Regions from separate parts of the Homo sapiens genome. Here region 2 is linked to region 1. Evidence: fine-mapped expression QTL. Tissue or cell type: whole blood. Region 1 holds a variant in brackets; the other region holds the start of a gene. All regions are shown on one strand. Distances are between the middles of the regions.

Evidence for each region. PIP is the estimated chance that this variant, and not a neighbour inherited with it, causes the effect.
Region 2: PPM1M starts here. The variant in region 1 is fine-mapped to the expression of PPM1M in whole blood (TOPMed, PIP above 0.99).

Annotation. Positions count from the first base shown.
Region 1 is chr3:52,872,393-52,880,495 of GRCh38, reverse strand. All of the region lies in intron 1 of STIMATE-MUSTN1 (STIMATE-MUSTN1 readthrough), which reads left to right. The region is part of intron 1 of STIMATE (STIM activating enhancer); the gene reads left to right. Among named protein-coding and RNA genes, the nearest start is that of STIMATE, 21 kb to the left of the region's middle. RefSeq lists a silencer at 7,683-7,953. The variant T/C (reference allele first, on the strand shown) is at 3,869.
Region 2 is chr3:52,241,343-52,249,445 of GRCh38, reverse strand. PPM1M (protein phosphatase, Mg2+/Mn2+ dependent 1M) reads right to left here and starts at 3,687. Exons shown (of 10, transcript NM_144641.4): 1 at 3,398-3,687; 2 at 2,634-2,751; 3 at 2,218-2,472; 4 at 1,652-1,764; 5 at 1,209-1,293; 6 at 993-1,111; 7 at 746-809; 8 at 383-490; 9 at 124-272. The coding sequence starts at 3,621. RefSeq lists silencers at 3,344-3,403, 3,444-3,813 and an enhancer at 8,086-8,103.

The DNA of each region.
Region 1 (8,103 bases):
TAGAATGTGCTGAGACTCAGTCACCACTCTCCTGGTTCTTATAGCAGATGATTTGGTCTTTTTTTCTTTTTACTTATAATGAATATGTAATAATTGTACATATTTGTTGTTTGGTCCACTCTTGACAGTGTTTTAACTCTGCTTTCTCTGGTTCTGTGCTTGCCCCACCCACATCTGGTCCCTCTTGTATAGCATCAGGTGTGCGAAGCTAAGTCTCCTGCAGGTGGCTTGGTGAAGAGCACGTCAGAAGGATGCGTGCTGATTGGGACTCTCTTGATGCACACCGTTGCCTGGTTGGAGAGTCTGAGGACAGGTTGGAGGGCCCCACCCGGGCCCTAAGCCTCCTTTTATCTAGGATCTCATGAACTATGCTTGGCCTTTCTGAGTGGGAGCTGGCATAGCAAACCTGTTTCAAATGAGAAATAGCAGGGCCAGAGCATGCTGATTCTCTGGGGTTGATTTATGTTCTTTCTAGAATTTTAGGAAGGCAGGAATCAAAGAAGACATCATTGTGATACAACCCCAGAAACATCACCCAGCAAGCCCGTCTCCAGAATTCCAGAGGCTCTGGTGGCTTCCCCTCACTTCATGTAGCTAGGGTTCAGAGCCCTCAGGGAAGGAGGCTGGCTAGGAGGCAGAGCTCCTTTTCCACGTGTTCTTTAAGCAAGCTCTCTGCCAGCCTCATGCCTTGGGGTGCTTACCATGCACTCTGCATGATAGGACAAGAGGGGCAGAAAAACTTAATTTCATGGTGCCTTTTATGACTTCCATGCCATGTGATGGTGGTTTTTCCAGCTCCTTTGTGGAAGGAAAATTTGAGAGATCTAAGTAGAGAGATGAACAAAGTGAGCATTGGGAGTTGAGGAATCCTATTCTGACTGAGACTCTCCCTTTCCTCACGCAGCCGGTGTTCCCAGTTCTCAGAGTCTTGGTTTATTTACATTGTATATCCCCCTGTACTGGTGTACATGCTTCTCGTGTATCACTTGTTCTTCCCTCCTGGTCCTCCTGTTCTTCCTAAGTGGAGGAGAGGCGTCAGTAGCTGTGAGAAGAACCTCAAGGCTCCTGAAGTATCCATCAGACTACTCTGGAAGGGATTCCCACTGCCGGCCAAGTAGGGCTACAGGTATTTTAGCTCATAGCGGGTGATGATTTGTTAAGGTCCCAAGCCTCCTGGTGGTCAAAGGCTGCCTTGGCTGCTGTCTGCTGCCCTGTCTCTGGCCACCTGACTCGTAGGCCTGGGGACTGAGGACATGAGCTCTGTTGTTTCTCTTCTCAGATCTGCCTAGTTACACAACTTGTATGGTTTGAAAGGAGAAGACTCTGGGTGCCAACTTCATTGGGCTGAGGAGCTAGGGCAAAGGTCTTATGTGTAATTTAATAATTCTAGTATCATGAGAAGAACTGGTCTTCCTTTAATTGTTCTGCCTAGCATGCTTATTAATTCTCTTCCATCAATAAAATTCTAAGGTAAAGCCCAGTGTTCCCAGAAGAAGAGTTTTTTTGCTTGAGTAAAGGTGTAACACCCTCACAAAGTCAGTGGATGCTATCGCAACATCCGTGCACTTGCACTGCCGTTGGAGCCTCTCAGTAGACTGCTCATCTGCCATGCTATTGGCAGTCCCACCCACTCCTGAAGGCAGTGTCCTATCGGCTCTTATCTGTTGAGAAGGTTAGATATGGCCTTCTGGAACCCTGGGGAGCTGGTCCTCTGAACTTGGACTTGTCCTTGACTTCTTTATGTAGCTTCATAACCAGCCAGCTTCTCTTGGTTGTAGGTGTGTGCCCTTGGAAAACCAGTGGAGATGTTTCTGTTCGATGCTATCAGAATAAAAATGCATTTAGGTAGGCTCACGAGACAATCAGGGAGAAAAGTCTTTGTCATCCAAAGGGACCAGGGAACAGAGATAGTGTAGCCAGGAATGTAGGGTTTCTACACAAGGAAACAAAACTAATACATCCAGGACCATAGGGTTCCTAGACCAGGGAGCAGAGGTGGTACAGCCGGGACCACAGGGTTCCTAGACCAGGGAATGAGGTGATACAGCCAGGACCATAGGATTCCTAAACCAGGCAAAGAGGTGATACAGCCTGGACCATAGGGTTCCTAGGCCCGGGAGCAGAGGTGGTACAGCCAGGACCATCAGACTTCTAGACCAGGGCATGAGGTGGTATAGCCTGGACCATAGGGTTCCTAGACCAGGGAACAGAGATGGTACAGCCTGTTGGTCACATGCGTGGTGTCTAGCATCAGACTGCGTAAATTTGGTCCCTTGCCTCTCATGACCACCAGGCCACATTATGGTAGTTTTTCCAGTGCTGTCTGACTTTATCTGTCTGAGACTGTTTCTTCTTCTCAAGATAGGGGAGGTGATTACCTGTCTTTTTTTTTTTTTTTTTTTAAGACGGAGTCTTGCTCTGTCGCCCAGGCTGGAGTGCAGTGGCGCGATCTCAGCTCACTGCAAGCTCCACCTCCCGGGTTCATGCTATTCTCCTGCCTCTGCCTCCCGAGTAGCTGGGACTACAGGCATGTGCCACCACACTGGCTAATTTTTTGTATTTTTAGTAGAGACAGGGTTTCACTGTGTTACCCAGGATGGTCTCGATCTCCTGACCTCGTGATCTGCCCGCCTTAGCCTCTCAAAGTGCTGGGATTACAGGCGTGAGCCACCACACCCGGCCAGTGATTACCTATCTTAATGGGTTATGAGAATTAAGTGAGATACAGTGCTTGGCACTGCCGGGTGCAGGGTGGGTGCTGAGTGTTAGCTCACTGAGGCCCACCATGGCTGACTGGCCGCCACGTCACACAACCCTGGGGAGGTAGGACAGTTCACACCATGTCATCAGTTATTAGAATTGGGAAAATACAGCTTAATCCAAGACTTCATGTACAGGTCGAACTGGAGGGATTGAATGGCTCACCGGAGACTTTCCAGCAGGTCAGAGGCTGAGCCAGGACTAGAACCCAGAATTCCTCTGTCCTAGGCCTCTGCCCTTTCCCCTCCAATGCCTACTCTTACTGCTGTTTCTGTGCCCCCTGCCATGGCACACATTTACTTATGCTCATTGGTTTGTCCAGGGAGTTTGTTCTAGACTATGGCATGAGAAAGGGAACTCTTCCCACCTACGAACTGACCTTCCTAACATTGTGCCACTTGGTCATGACAGCCCAAGAGCACAAGCCTGGAGCCGCAGCCAGTGGCAGGTGGCTGAGGCATGTGAAGGTGGAGGGATGTTGCACACTCTTGGTAAACATGGGCTTTCTTCCTTCCCTCTCCCAGCTTCAGGCTGGTCTGGCAGAGGCAGGCACTGGGTTGCCCAAAAGCGTGAGCTGTGTTAAAGAGTGATGGCAGAAGCAGCCACAGGCAGGGTGTGTCAGAGGAGACCTGTTATGGACTCAGCCAGTGTGGCCTGTGCCAGTGAACTTCAATGGCCATTCTCAGTTTTAACCTGCATTAAGACTTGAGTTGACTTTTTATCACAAGCCTTGAAATTTTGGACTATGTATATATTATAAATGTAGACACTAGCCACCTACCTTCAGTGTAGAATAACATTCTTGAATTGTTTTTCCACCCACAGTTGATCCTTGAACAGCGTGGGGGTTAGAGCAGTCAACACTCCACACAGTTGAAAACCCGCATATAACTTCTGACTCCCCAAAAACTTAACTGCTAATAGCCTAGTGTTGACTAGAAGCCTGACCCAATAACATAAACAGCCAATTAACACATATTTTATATATGTATTATATATGGTATTCTTACAATAAAATGAGAAAAAATGTTATTAAGAAATGTTAGTAAGAAAAATCATAAGGAAGAGAAAATGTATCTGCTATTCATTAAATGGAAGTGGATTATCA[T/C]GAAAACTTGTGTTCGTAATGGTTTTCATCCTCTTGATCTTCAAATTGAAAGCCGAGGAGGAGGAGGATTCAGGGTTGGTCTTGCCGTGTCGGGTGGCAGAGATGGGAGAAAATCCGTGTATAAGTGGACCCATGCAGTTCAAACTCATGTTCTTCAAGGGCCAACTGTAGATTTAAGTGTTCTAAGCTAATTCTCTTTTAGAAGCCATTCTTGTTTTTCGATAATGCTGTCTGGGTTGCACATAAAGGCCCAAGTTTGATAAGCTTTGCGTTTTGTATCAAGGGACCAGGCTCCATCAGTCCTGATGCTGGTGCCTTGCTGTTCAGTGGTAGGTGAGGGTCAGCAGTGGCCTGGGTTCTGGTCCTGACCCTAGTGCTTGCTGCCTGTTGGACTTCAGCAAGTTCCTTAACTGCTCTGAGCATCAGTTTTGCCATCTGAAAATTAGGATGATTCTATCCACTTCCTAGGGTTGAGTGAGGAATGATGGAATTAATTTAGCTTAAGTGTCTAGGGCCACCAGTATTGCTGATGTTGATAACACCTTATGTGATGAGACTTTCTCAGATCTCCTCATGGGAACTCAGTTGAATGCATACTGGCTTTAGGGAGTAGAGGAGGCTGTCTTTGATGGTAAAGCAGGGTGCTGTTGGGGATCATGTCAGGTGAGCCTGTCCTTGCCAGCCACCCTCACACTGCTTCTCCAGGTGAGCTGGCTGCTCATGGGTACCTCTCAGTGCTCACAAGGGCTTCTGGATGAGGGAGGGGGCCGGCTGAGTGGCCCCTCCACCCCTGCTGGGGAATGGCATTTAAAGTATTTGACCTACAGATGTCAAGAGGGCAGGTGTAATCATCTTTATGAATGAAACCTACTGCACTGGGGGTTTATCCTAGTAAGTTGAGTGACCCAGTTAAGTGAATTGGCAACTTTGATGTCCTTTGGCTTCTGGACTTAACTCTTGACAGGTGGACCTCAAGACTCCCACCCTTTCCTTCCAGATTCAAAGAGTGAAAACAACATCAAAAGTACCCCTCTCCATACCCGTTATTCATTCTGTTCTCTGCCAAGTTGGGACCACTCTAAGCAGCTAGAATGGTGTGGGAGCCTTGGGTTACGGGGACAGAAATCTAACCTGCGATTTGCTGTGTGATGGGGCCACTGTGTGAGGGGGCCAGCAGGTGTCTCCTCTGACTAGGAGGCAGAGAGATTAATGTCTGTGCTGCTTGAGCTGAGGATGAGCTTCTGTGGTGGGGCTGGCCAGGGGCTACACGTGTTACCTCTGAGAAATGCAGACTCCACGGCCATGCCTTCTTCTAAGAATTTGACTAACCACAAGGTTGCAGTGAAGGTCAGTTCTTTGGGTAAAGAAAACTTTTTATAGTCAAGGTCCTCTTATCCAACACAAATTAGAACTATTTGTTAATTTTTAAGAGGTAGTGAAACTGGGGAATACAAAAAAGTAGAAACATACACAATGAACATTTTATTCCAGCTTATGCCTGTTAGCATACAGGAGCACAGGGACCTCCCATCTACCATAGATAACAGCGCAGCAGTGATCCTAGACCTCCTTGATGTGGGTTCAGTTGCAGACTAAAGTGGCGCATTTTCCGTCTCTCGTGAGTTCTGCCTGCTGGAAGCTTTTCTCTTAGAAGGAGATTTTCTAAATGAGTTGGGTTTGAGGAAGGTTTTTAATTATCTAATGTGCAAAATTGTAATTTAGTCATTTTTAATTTATTGTTTTTAGCAGCAGAGACCTTTATTTTATTTATCTATTATTATTTTTTGAGACAGAATCTCCCTCTGTCGCCCAGGCTGGAGTGCAGTGGCAAGATTTTGGCTCACTGCAACCTCCACCTCCCAGGTTCAAGCGATTCTGGTGTCTCAGCCTCACGAGTAGCCACCACGCCCAGCTAATTTTTTTATTTTCAGTAGAGACTGGGTTTCCCCATGTTGGCCAGGCTGGTCTCAAACTCCTGACCTCAAGTGATCCGCCCGGCTCAGCCTCCCAAAGTGCTGAGATTACAGGTGTGAGCTACCATGACCAGCCTCTTTTTTGTTGTTACTACAAAAGTAATACATTCTCACTGTAAGCAACTAAAACATTATGAAAAGACATAGCATAGAAAGTGAAAGTTCAGTTCACTGTAAGTCCATCCTCTAGAGAGCTAACCATGGTTAATAGTTTATTGTATATGCCTCTGAATTTCTGTGTGTGTGTGTATCTTTTGTTGATGTATAAAAATAGGTTCACATTACACATTGACCGTTTTAATGATTTGCTTTTTTCCCCCCATTTAGCATGAGGGTTTTTTCCATTTCAATGCAGATAGATCTACCTCACTTTTTAAATAGTTTTATTGAGGTATAATTTATGTACCATAAAACTCACGCATTGTAAGTATACTTCACAGTTGACATCCATTGCATAATCACATATGATCAACCCCTTCCCTATCGATGGACATTTAGCTGGTTTCTAAATCTTCCACTCTTAAAGACAATGCTGCAGTGAGTGCTCTTCTACACAGACTTGTGGGCATTTGTGGAGGTGTAACTATAGAGGAAAAGCTGAGTCACAGTTTATAAACATTTAAAATCGTGATAGATATGCCAAAATAACCTGACGCAACTTTTCATGTGTTTTGTGGACTGGTGGAAAACACACACACACATATCGTTGCCCGCTATGAGATTGAATGAAATTCCTGAATTTATTTGTCCAGGGAATTGGAGTTAGCAGTGTAGTGGTGATGCATGGCAGGAGCAGATGCAGCATTTCTCTGTGAGTTCCCCAGCTGCCCAGGATACTGGCTCACAGGGTAGGGTCCTTCCAGGACAGCCCCATTATTCTTGGGGCTTCCATCAGTATTCAGGAAGAACGTACACTAACAAGCCCTCATTAGCAAGTACTTACAGGTCCCCAGCGCCTCTTGGCTCTTAGGTCAAATTCTGCATCCTGGAAGCCTCATCCCTGCACCTCCCACCCCACCCCTAGGGCTCTTGGAGCAGCAACTCTGATATCTCTGCCTCTAGTGTCTGGTTCCCAGAAGGCTCAGTTAGTTCACTGAGGCTACCCTTGGTACCAGTTTAATGACTTCTTTAACCTGGGTGGTTCTGGAGCCGAGAATTGCAAATCCACTTCCCCACACTTACCAAGTGGTTGTACAACTCGCTTTTCTACCAGTGTTTTAAGAGTACCTGTTTCCTAATATCCTCACCAAATGTTTTAACCTTTGCTAATCTGGGCAAAAATCAATACTAATTTGCATCTTCAAAATTGCTGTTATTAAGGTTGCATATGTGTTTATCAGCAATTTGTATTTCTTTCCATCAAACAGAATCCCCCATGGAACACACATACAGTGATAATGCCCCCTCGCTCCTACTGCCATCATTATCTTAGCAGATGACACCACAGCCCTGCTCCTGGGGGAAGCAGTGGTTTCAAGGAGGCCTGTGTTCAGAGAATTTAGCATATTTATTTGCTAGACAATTTAGGGTGGTGGGGGGAGGTTGTTGCTTTTTGTTTTTGTTATTTATTTCTCAGCCTTCGGCCAAACCTCCATGGAGCAGGATTAAAGCTGGCTAAACTTAGAACCTGGGCTTCATCTGGTTCAGAAGAAATTAAGTCTTTACCAAAAAATGTTCATGAGCACTTAGACCAGATTATCAGCTTCTTGTTTTTAAGGTCAGATATGGTTGCCGGGCGTGGTGGCTCACACCTGTAGTCCCAACACTTTGGGAGGCCAAGGTGGGTGGATCACTGGAGGTCAGGAGTTTGAGACCAGCCTGGCCAACATGGTGAAACCCCATCTCTACTAAAAATACAAAAATTAGCTGGGTGTGGTGGTGCATGCCTGTAATCCCAGCTACTCAGGAGGCTGAGGTAGGAGAATCACTTGAACCCGGGAGGCGGAGGTTGCAATGAGCCGAGATTGTGCCATTGCACTCCAGCCTGGGCGACAGAGCGAGACTCCGTCTCAAAAAATAAAATTAAAAAAATAGATAATTAAAAATCAGGTCAGATATGGTGAGGGAGTCTTTGCCGAGCCAGTTCATCCTGACTTCCAGTTATTTACGAGGAAGAAAGTTTTGGAGTAGTTGGCCTCTGACAGTCTTGCGTACAGCTTACATCATCCATAACCAAAGCAGTTTAGTCCTTCCTGTTGTAGGACTAATAACTTGCAAACTGCTTCTGGGAGAACCCATCACAGAAATTCATGAAACTTGTTG
Region 2 (8,103 bases), 630 kb after region 1:
AGACAGCCCTGATCCTGGCCAGCTGCCAGCTCATTGTCAGTGCTCTGTCTTCTCAGCCATAACTACTTGGGCTTGCTGCTGGCACCAACCCAGGCCCAGGCAGGTCCCCAGCAGCTACAGTACCTGTGTGGGTCCTCTTGGTTCCCAGGGAGGAAGCTCCGCACCAGCCATGCCACCTGCTCGTTGGACAGTACATCCCAGAGTCCATCAGTTGCCATGACAACCACATCATCCTCCTGTAGCTCCAGCTGGTCCACATCCAGCACAGTCACCTACAAATTAAGCCTGAGGATCCTGCACACTCCCTTCCCGACTCCCACCAGCCTCACTGTCTGCCTTTCTGGGCAGATGGAAGCTGGGTTGGACAGCGTTGCCCCCTTACCTGTGGCACAGAGAGCAAGAAGGGCTTGAGCTGGATGTTTGTGTCCAGGACTCTGAGCTGATGGTCTCCCAGGCCCCGGGAGACAGCCAGTGTTCCTAGTAACCGAGCCTGAGGGAAAGTGAGGTGTGAGGCGATGGCAAACAGCTCCAGCAAATGCACAAGTACCAGGCCCTAGCACTGCAGAGCACACAGGGAGAGGTGGACTGTGGCCCTTGGAAGCCTTGGACTGAGAGAGAAAATTCCTAGTCTCAGAGCAAATCCCAGGCCACCAGCCACAGCTACCAGCAAGAGGCAAAGGAGCTCCCACCTCTGCAGGGGACAATGAAGAGGGATTCTTGGGGTTGAGGAGGACCAGGCACTGACCTGCCTACCCTGTCCATGGATCAGTGGGTACTTGAGATCCGATTTCTCCACACGTTTGTAGCTCCTACCAGGAGCAGAGCCAGCATCAACCCAAGCCCTGTGCCCCATCTCATCTTTCCCCAACTCAGGGCCCAGCTGTCACACCCTCACAGTGCCACCCTGCCAAGGTGGAGGGGGGCCCCAGGCCATACGGCTGGGCCTGGATCCCAGGGGTCTCCCTTCCTACCTGTCCCCCATCCCCACTCACCAGCCACTCATGTGGTGATCCCTGAACAAAACCTTCTGTCCCAAGTCATCCCCCTTCAGCCGCCGAGGGAACTCCAGTCGGGTGAACTCACCAGCCAGAAGCTCAGGATAGACAAAGGCCTGGGGTGGGGAGGCTGCGCTCAGGTCATACTCCTTCTTATGGCCCTGGACCCAGGAGTTGGAGCTTCACAGCCTCCATGCTGCCAAGGGCACCTACCAGCTGCTGGATCCGCTGCCGCTCAGTCTCTGGGGTGAACTCGAAGCTCAGTGGCCGTATCTCATCTCTCCGCACCAAGATGGCCCTGGATTGAGGAGAGAAGGGAGAGGTCTAGGAGGAGGCCTCCACCCTCACCCATGGCCACCCTCCTACCAGTCCCTCCTCCAACCACCAGGATCCAGCTCTGTCCATGATGATCCCTTAAAGCCCTCCATGACTACCTAAGACCTGCAAGGGTGAAGGCTTAGCCCTTTAGCGGGGCCTTTGAGGTCCCTGCCCTCCCCGGCAGCCACTGTCCACACTCGACACATAACAAGTACACACACAATTCAGCCAGTCAATCCTTCCTACTATCCCTCCACTTCCAGCCACCTTTGCTTGTCCCCATTGCTGCTTATGCCCTCCCCATCCCACCCTTGCCCACCCTCCAAGGGGTGACTCACCTGCTATCCCCAGCATTGGCCATGTACAGCTTTCCCTGCAGGGACACAGCCACCAGGGCTGTGCAGCCGCCCATCTGGCCTGAGGCCTCCAGCTCCCGCCCGATCACCTCATCCTGGGGAAAACCGAGGCCACCTTAGCTGCTGCCTGTTCTGCCACCATACTACTTTGTCTCTCAATCCCCACCCTACCCTACAGTTCACTTCTACCAGCAGGCCTGACAGTCCCAGCCCAAAGTCCAGCCATACCTCCAAGATCCCTGCAGTCAGGAGATCTAGACAAGGGAAGTGCTACTCAAAATAGGAAGAGAAACCAGCCCCTGCACCAAGGACCAATAGGGTATTCAATTAGATGATGCAGGTAAAAGCAGTTAGCACACAGTAGGTGCTGGATAAATGAGAGGGGTTATGCTGATAGTGATGGCTGTTAGTAACAATCCAACCAACCCAATCTCATCCTCCCAATCCAAGGATCTGGTGTGATGACCATGGGTATACAGAGATGCCATTTCCTGAGATCCCCGGGGCAAAATCTCCACTTCTTCCCCAGCCAAAAGCCACACACTCACACATTCCTGAAAGGCACTCTCCAATGCCCCGATCACCAAGTCTTCTGCCCTGATGCCCTTTTCCTCCACAAACTGAGGGTCACTGGGGCAGATGCAGCGGCCATTGAGGTGCATGGGGGGCTGAGTGGCCACCAAGCCTTCCACCACGGCCTCCAGCTGCCGGCGCAAGCAGGAGTGCAGGGTGTTGGCAGCCAAGATGGCTGCTGCAGGACCGCCGTGCCCATCGAACAGTGCCCAGTAATGGCCTGTCAGGAACTGCACAGGAAGGGCTCAGTGTCAGCCTCTGCCTGACTTCCCCACTTGTCCCCTGACGCAACCTAACTAGGACCTGGGGCAGCAGGGTAAGAACCTCAGCCTGCAGGTCGTGGCCCCAGCCTGTCGGAGGGATTCCAGCCAAGAACTCAGACTGCACTCACCTCCTCTGGGCACAGGGTCAGCCACTCTTCTTCAGCCCCAAACTCACATCTCCGGATGCACAGCTTCCCACAGGCGGCTTGATCCTCATTGAATTCAGATTTCTCTGCATTGATAATCCTGAGGCCGGGAAATGGTAAGCGACCCTCCAGGGACACACCTATGTCCCCATGGGCACAGGGACCCAAGCCAGCACAGGGAGAAGACCCCTCCCTCTGGGGCAACAGCTCCCCAGTGCTGTCCCTAACACACACTTAGACAACCACGATGTAAGCTTCCTAACTTCACTGGCCTCATGGCTAAGGTAAAAGTCAGGGCCCAGCTCCTCTGGAGCCTACCTGGTGACCCAGGGCTAGACGGTAAGGGTAGGTTGCCATTCCTGCCCCTGTCCTGTCGCAGCCCAAAGCCCTGTCCCATACAGCGCAGGTCATACCCAGGGTGAGATGGTGGGGGTAGAGGGCGAGGGGAAATCTCCAAAGCCCCGAATGCTGGAACTCTACCGAGTCTCTGGGCCTCATCTTGGAAGCCCCTGGGCTGCAGGTCCTTCCCGACCTCCTGTCTTCTCTGAGGGGGAGGTCGGAATCCCAAGGAAAACGCTGGGTCGGGATGACCGGGAAGTTGTCAGGATTCGGAGGTGAGGGCAAGAAGGGGCTGTCCACAGGTGGGTGGGGACTGTCACTCAGCTCCTCCCGCTTTCTAGGCGGGCGCAGGACCCGAAGCGGGTTCAGGCCCGGGCCTGAGCTGGGGGTCGGGGAGGGGCACTCACTCGGCGTAGCCTGCATTCCAGGGTAGCGTGCGTCCTCGTGCGGGGCTGCGCACGGGCCGGGAGTCTGGGCGGCGCGAGGCGTCGGCCGCCCCGGGGCTGGAGCTGGAGCCGCGAAGGAAGCGGGGCCGTCGGTAGGGCACGGGGCTGGCATGCGGCCCAGGCGGCCGCGGCGCGGGGAGCGGCTCCCCAGGCAGGAAGCGGCGCCGGAACCAGCCGGCGGACATGGCGCGGCGGCAGGGGGCTGCCCGCGGAGCGCGGGGCGCTAGGGCTGGGCCGCCCGCGGGAGGAAGAAGCGGGCCGCGGGCGGAGCCGAGGGAGGGGTGCGCCGGCGGGAGGCGGGGCCGGGGGCGCGCAGACGGGAGGCGTCGCCCCCCAGCCCCGACCTCCGCCCGGGAGTGCGTGCGCGGCTGGTTCGCTGACTCCAGGGGTCAACGCTCGCGACCGCCTGAAGAAGCCCACGCCGGCATCAGCCCCATTTGACAAGCAGGAAAACCGAGGCCTAGAGAGGCGAAGTCGCCTGCCCAGCGTCCCACAGTAGCCAGGGAGGACTGTTCACCCACGCTTGCGGGGCACTGGTGGTTGAGAGGAAAAGTCCCCCACACTCCGCGGGGCCAGCGTCGCGCAGATCCTCGGACCTCCTCCTGCTGGGTGGGGACCTGACGCAAGGGGAAGATGGGGACAAAATGAGCTGGGAGGTGTCAGACCCCCACATTGAGTAAATGCCACCGAGCACAGGTTCCTTCAGGCGGCCTCCAATCCTCTCCACCCCGGCCTGCCACCCTCCACCCCAGACGGGCTTAGTGGGCACCTTGGCTTTCCCCGTCCTGAGAGGCTGCTGCCACCCTCGAGGACAGTCTTCCAAATGGCTGTCCCTGCATTCAAGATGTCTTCGCGGAATAGACAGCAGGATCCTTACTGGACTGTGAGTGAGTGACGGACAAGAGAAATCTGTGTGAGTGTAAAGGGGAATCCGTGGTCCCCCAAAGGCTCCAGCTGGTCCGAGTTCAGACCTGGGACGGAGGGAAGTGAAAGACGAGGAACCATCTTGCGGTCTCTCAACCACTGGCTAGCTGTCACCAGGCGGTCAGCCGCAGTGTCCCCTTCACATCTGCGAGTTAACAAAGCACTTTGTCACCCATTTGTCACTCAAGTCCAACTCCCTGTGCAAAAGTGTTACTTTGGCCGGAGGCAGTGGCTCACGCCTGTAATCCCAGTGCTTTGGGAGGCCGAGGCGGGCGGATCACTTGAGGTCAGGAGTTCGAGACCAGCCTGGCCAACATGGTGAAACCCCGTCTGTACTAAAAATTAGCCAAGCGTGGTGGTGTGCGCCTGTAATCCCAGTTACTCAGAAGGCTGGGGCACAAGAATCGGTTGAACCCAGGAGGCAGAAGTTGCAGTGAGCCGAGATGGAGCCACTGCACTCCAGCCAGGGCAACAGAGCGAGACTCAGTCTCAAAAAAAAGAGTGTTACATCATATGGACGATTCTGAGGCCCATGGAGGGGAAGTCTTGGACACCCAGGGCTGTACTATTTCCATTATGACAATGCAGCTGACTCAATCCTCGCCCCCAGGGCACTTCTCTTCCCCTTTCCTCCTCCAGGAAGCCAGGGCTTGCCAATTAAAAGCGGCTAAGGCTCCACAGCCCAGTGCCTGCATATGAGCTGTATGAGGAGTCCACCTTCACCTCCACTCCCTAGCCCAGGTAGACGCTCAGTAAGCCCTACTTCCTCCCAGCAGCTAGTCCTGCCCCAGTGGGAGTTCCTCGGGCCCAAGAAGGAAGGTTCTTAGGGCAGGGACCTGTGCCCAACACCCACTCCCTCCGATGACTCAGTCCCAGACCAGCCTGGGGGCTGATTGACTGAACCCACAGTGTCTGCTGGGGCCACACTGGGCACAGGAACGCAGTGCTAATGGAGACAAGCCAGGCCTCTGCCCACCAAGCCCCCTGCAGTGATGGTAGCAGTTCTGGTGGATGCTGCTTCATCCAGCTGGCAAGAGGATAGGGGCGATGTCAGAGAAAGTTTCCCAAAGGACCTCTGAGCTGTGAATTGTCACTGTGACAGAACAGAAAGGTACCAGGGTGGGGCAGGCCCAATTCAGTCTATGGGGCCACTTCCTCACCCTCACCAGTTGATGCCTCAGAGGATTTTAAAGTCTAAAATTGGACAAAACAAAGTGCATACACTCTATTCCCCAACCCACCCCTGGGTGGGGGAAAGCCTTGTCCTGAAGTATTTTCACAGAAGCTCTGGGCAACCAAATGTCATAGGCAGTCTGTTGCACAGCTTAGCCATTGTCTATTTTCAGAGCCATGTGGAACCACATGGCAATCCCATCCTCTCTGTTCCAAGGTGGCCTGAGTGTTCCTTCAGTGCTACCAGGCTCTTCTGGCTTCCTGGGCTCCTAAGCGCCTCACTCTTGCCTGGATCTTAAGCCTATGTCTCTTGGTTTACTCCCTCATTTTGCTGAAGTGCATCCTTCAACAACTTTCCAACAAAGGGTGACTGGGAGGTACTTTCCTGAGAGATGTTATTTATCTATCTTTTTCTGTGAATGGTCTGTTTGTATCCTTTGCCACACTTTCTACTGGGCCATTTGTCTTTTTCTTTTTCTTTTTTTTTTTTTTGATACAGAGTTTCGCTCTTGTTGCCCAGGCTGGAGTGCAATGGTGTGATCTCGGCTCCCCATGACCTCTGCCTCCTGGGCTTAAGTGATTCTCCTGCCTCAGCCTCCTGAGTAGCTGAGATTACAGGCATGTGCCACCACGCCTGGCTACCATTGGTCTTTTTCTTATTGACTTATGAGAGCTCTTTATATATTAGAGAAATCAGCTCTTTATTTTGAAATGAGTTACAAGTATGCTGTTTGTAACAAGTTACAGTTTGTTATTTGTGTTTTGGCTGTGATGGTGGCTTTTTCCATATAGACTTTATTTTTTATGCAAATGGATTATTGATCTTTTCATAAAGGAAAATAAAAATTTCAGGACCCCCAAATTTGTTATGCTAAAGGGAGAGTTAAGCTTGGAGACTGAGCCACACAACACTGGCATTCCTTTTTTTTTTTTTTTTTTTTTTTTTTTTTTTGAGATGGAGTCTTGCTCTGTCACCCAGGCTAGAGTGCACTGGCACAATCCCGGCTCACTGCAACCTCCGCCTCCCGAGTTCAAGCAATTCTCCTGCCTCAGCCTCCCCAGTAGCTGGGATTACAGGCACCCGCCACCATGCCCAGCTAATTTTTGTATTTTTAGTAGAGATGGGGTTTCGCCATATTGATCAGGCTGGTCTCGAACTCCAGACCTCAGGTGATCCACCCGCCTCGGCCTCCCAAAGTGCTGGGATTACAGGCGTGCTGGGATTACAGGCGTGCTAGGATTACAGGCGTGCTGGGATTACAGGCGTGCTAGGATTACAGGCATGAGCCACCACACCCAGCCTTTTTTTTTTTTTTTTAATTTTATTCCGGCAACACTTCATTCTATGCTGCAGAACTAATGTTCTCCAAAACTGTCATTCTTTTCCCAAATGGATACCTGTTACCTTGCAACCTTGTGTCAAAATATTATGCATTAACCAGATCCCCACAAAAAGGCAAAAAGCCTCATGAATCTCCAGGTGACTGCAATCACAAATTGCTCAGCAGTAAATTCTTTGCCAGTCCCTAAAACTTTCAGGATGTATATCCTCCTATAAAACAAGGACATGTCAACTGCAACTTTAGGTCTGCAACCTAAACCTAACTCCTAAAACCAAAGTCTGTTAAATTTCACACTGACAATGTCAATTACAAGTTTATCTGCCCAGGTGCAGAACAAGGATAAGATGAGATCAATCATTCCTCCACCTAACCTGAGACCTCTGCATAATTGGCTCTTCTGTTACTCCCTGTTCTTCCAGTGTTCACCCTATCTTCCATATAGCTTAGATTTACGGGACACTAATTAAGAGTCTCACAAAAACATAACCATTTGCCTCACTGTCTTCTCCCCTTTAAAGAAATGTACAAATATTGAGCCTCCTGAAAACTTCTTGGGAGAGCACAGGCCACAGACGTTTCTTTGACTTGTGTTGCTTTCCTGGGCACGCTCCAACTCTGGCTCAGTAAACCTCGATTGATTGAAGCTCTTGCCTCAGTCTCTTATTTGGGTTAAGATTTTCTTTTTTTTTTTCTATAGACTAATTTTGGAAGTGAAAGATTTTCTTTGATGGTTTCTGTGTTTGGTGACACAGAAGTTTCCTCCACTCCAGATTCTACAAACTCCTCCCTTTGTTTCTTCAGTATTTTTAAATTTTTTAAGAGAGCCTCACTCTGTCACCCAAACTGGAATGCAGTGGTGTGATCACGGCTCACTGCAGCCCTTAACTCCTGGGCTCAGGTGATCCTCCTGCCTTAGCCTCCCAAGTAGCTGGGACTACAAACATGTGTGACTGTGCCTGGCTAATACATATCTATCTATTAATCTATCTATCTATCTATAGATATATATATGTAGAGATGGGGTCTTGCCATCTTTACCAGGCTGGTCTTGAATTCCTGGCCTCAAGCAGTCCTCCTGTCTCAGCCAAGTAGCTGGAACTACAGGTGTACATCACCATGCCTGGCTAATTTTAAAATAATTTTTTTTTTTTTTTTGTAGAGATGGAGTCTCACCATGTTGTTGTCCAGGCTGGTCTCAAACTCCTAGGCTCAAGAGATCTTCCCACC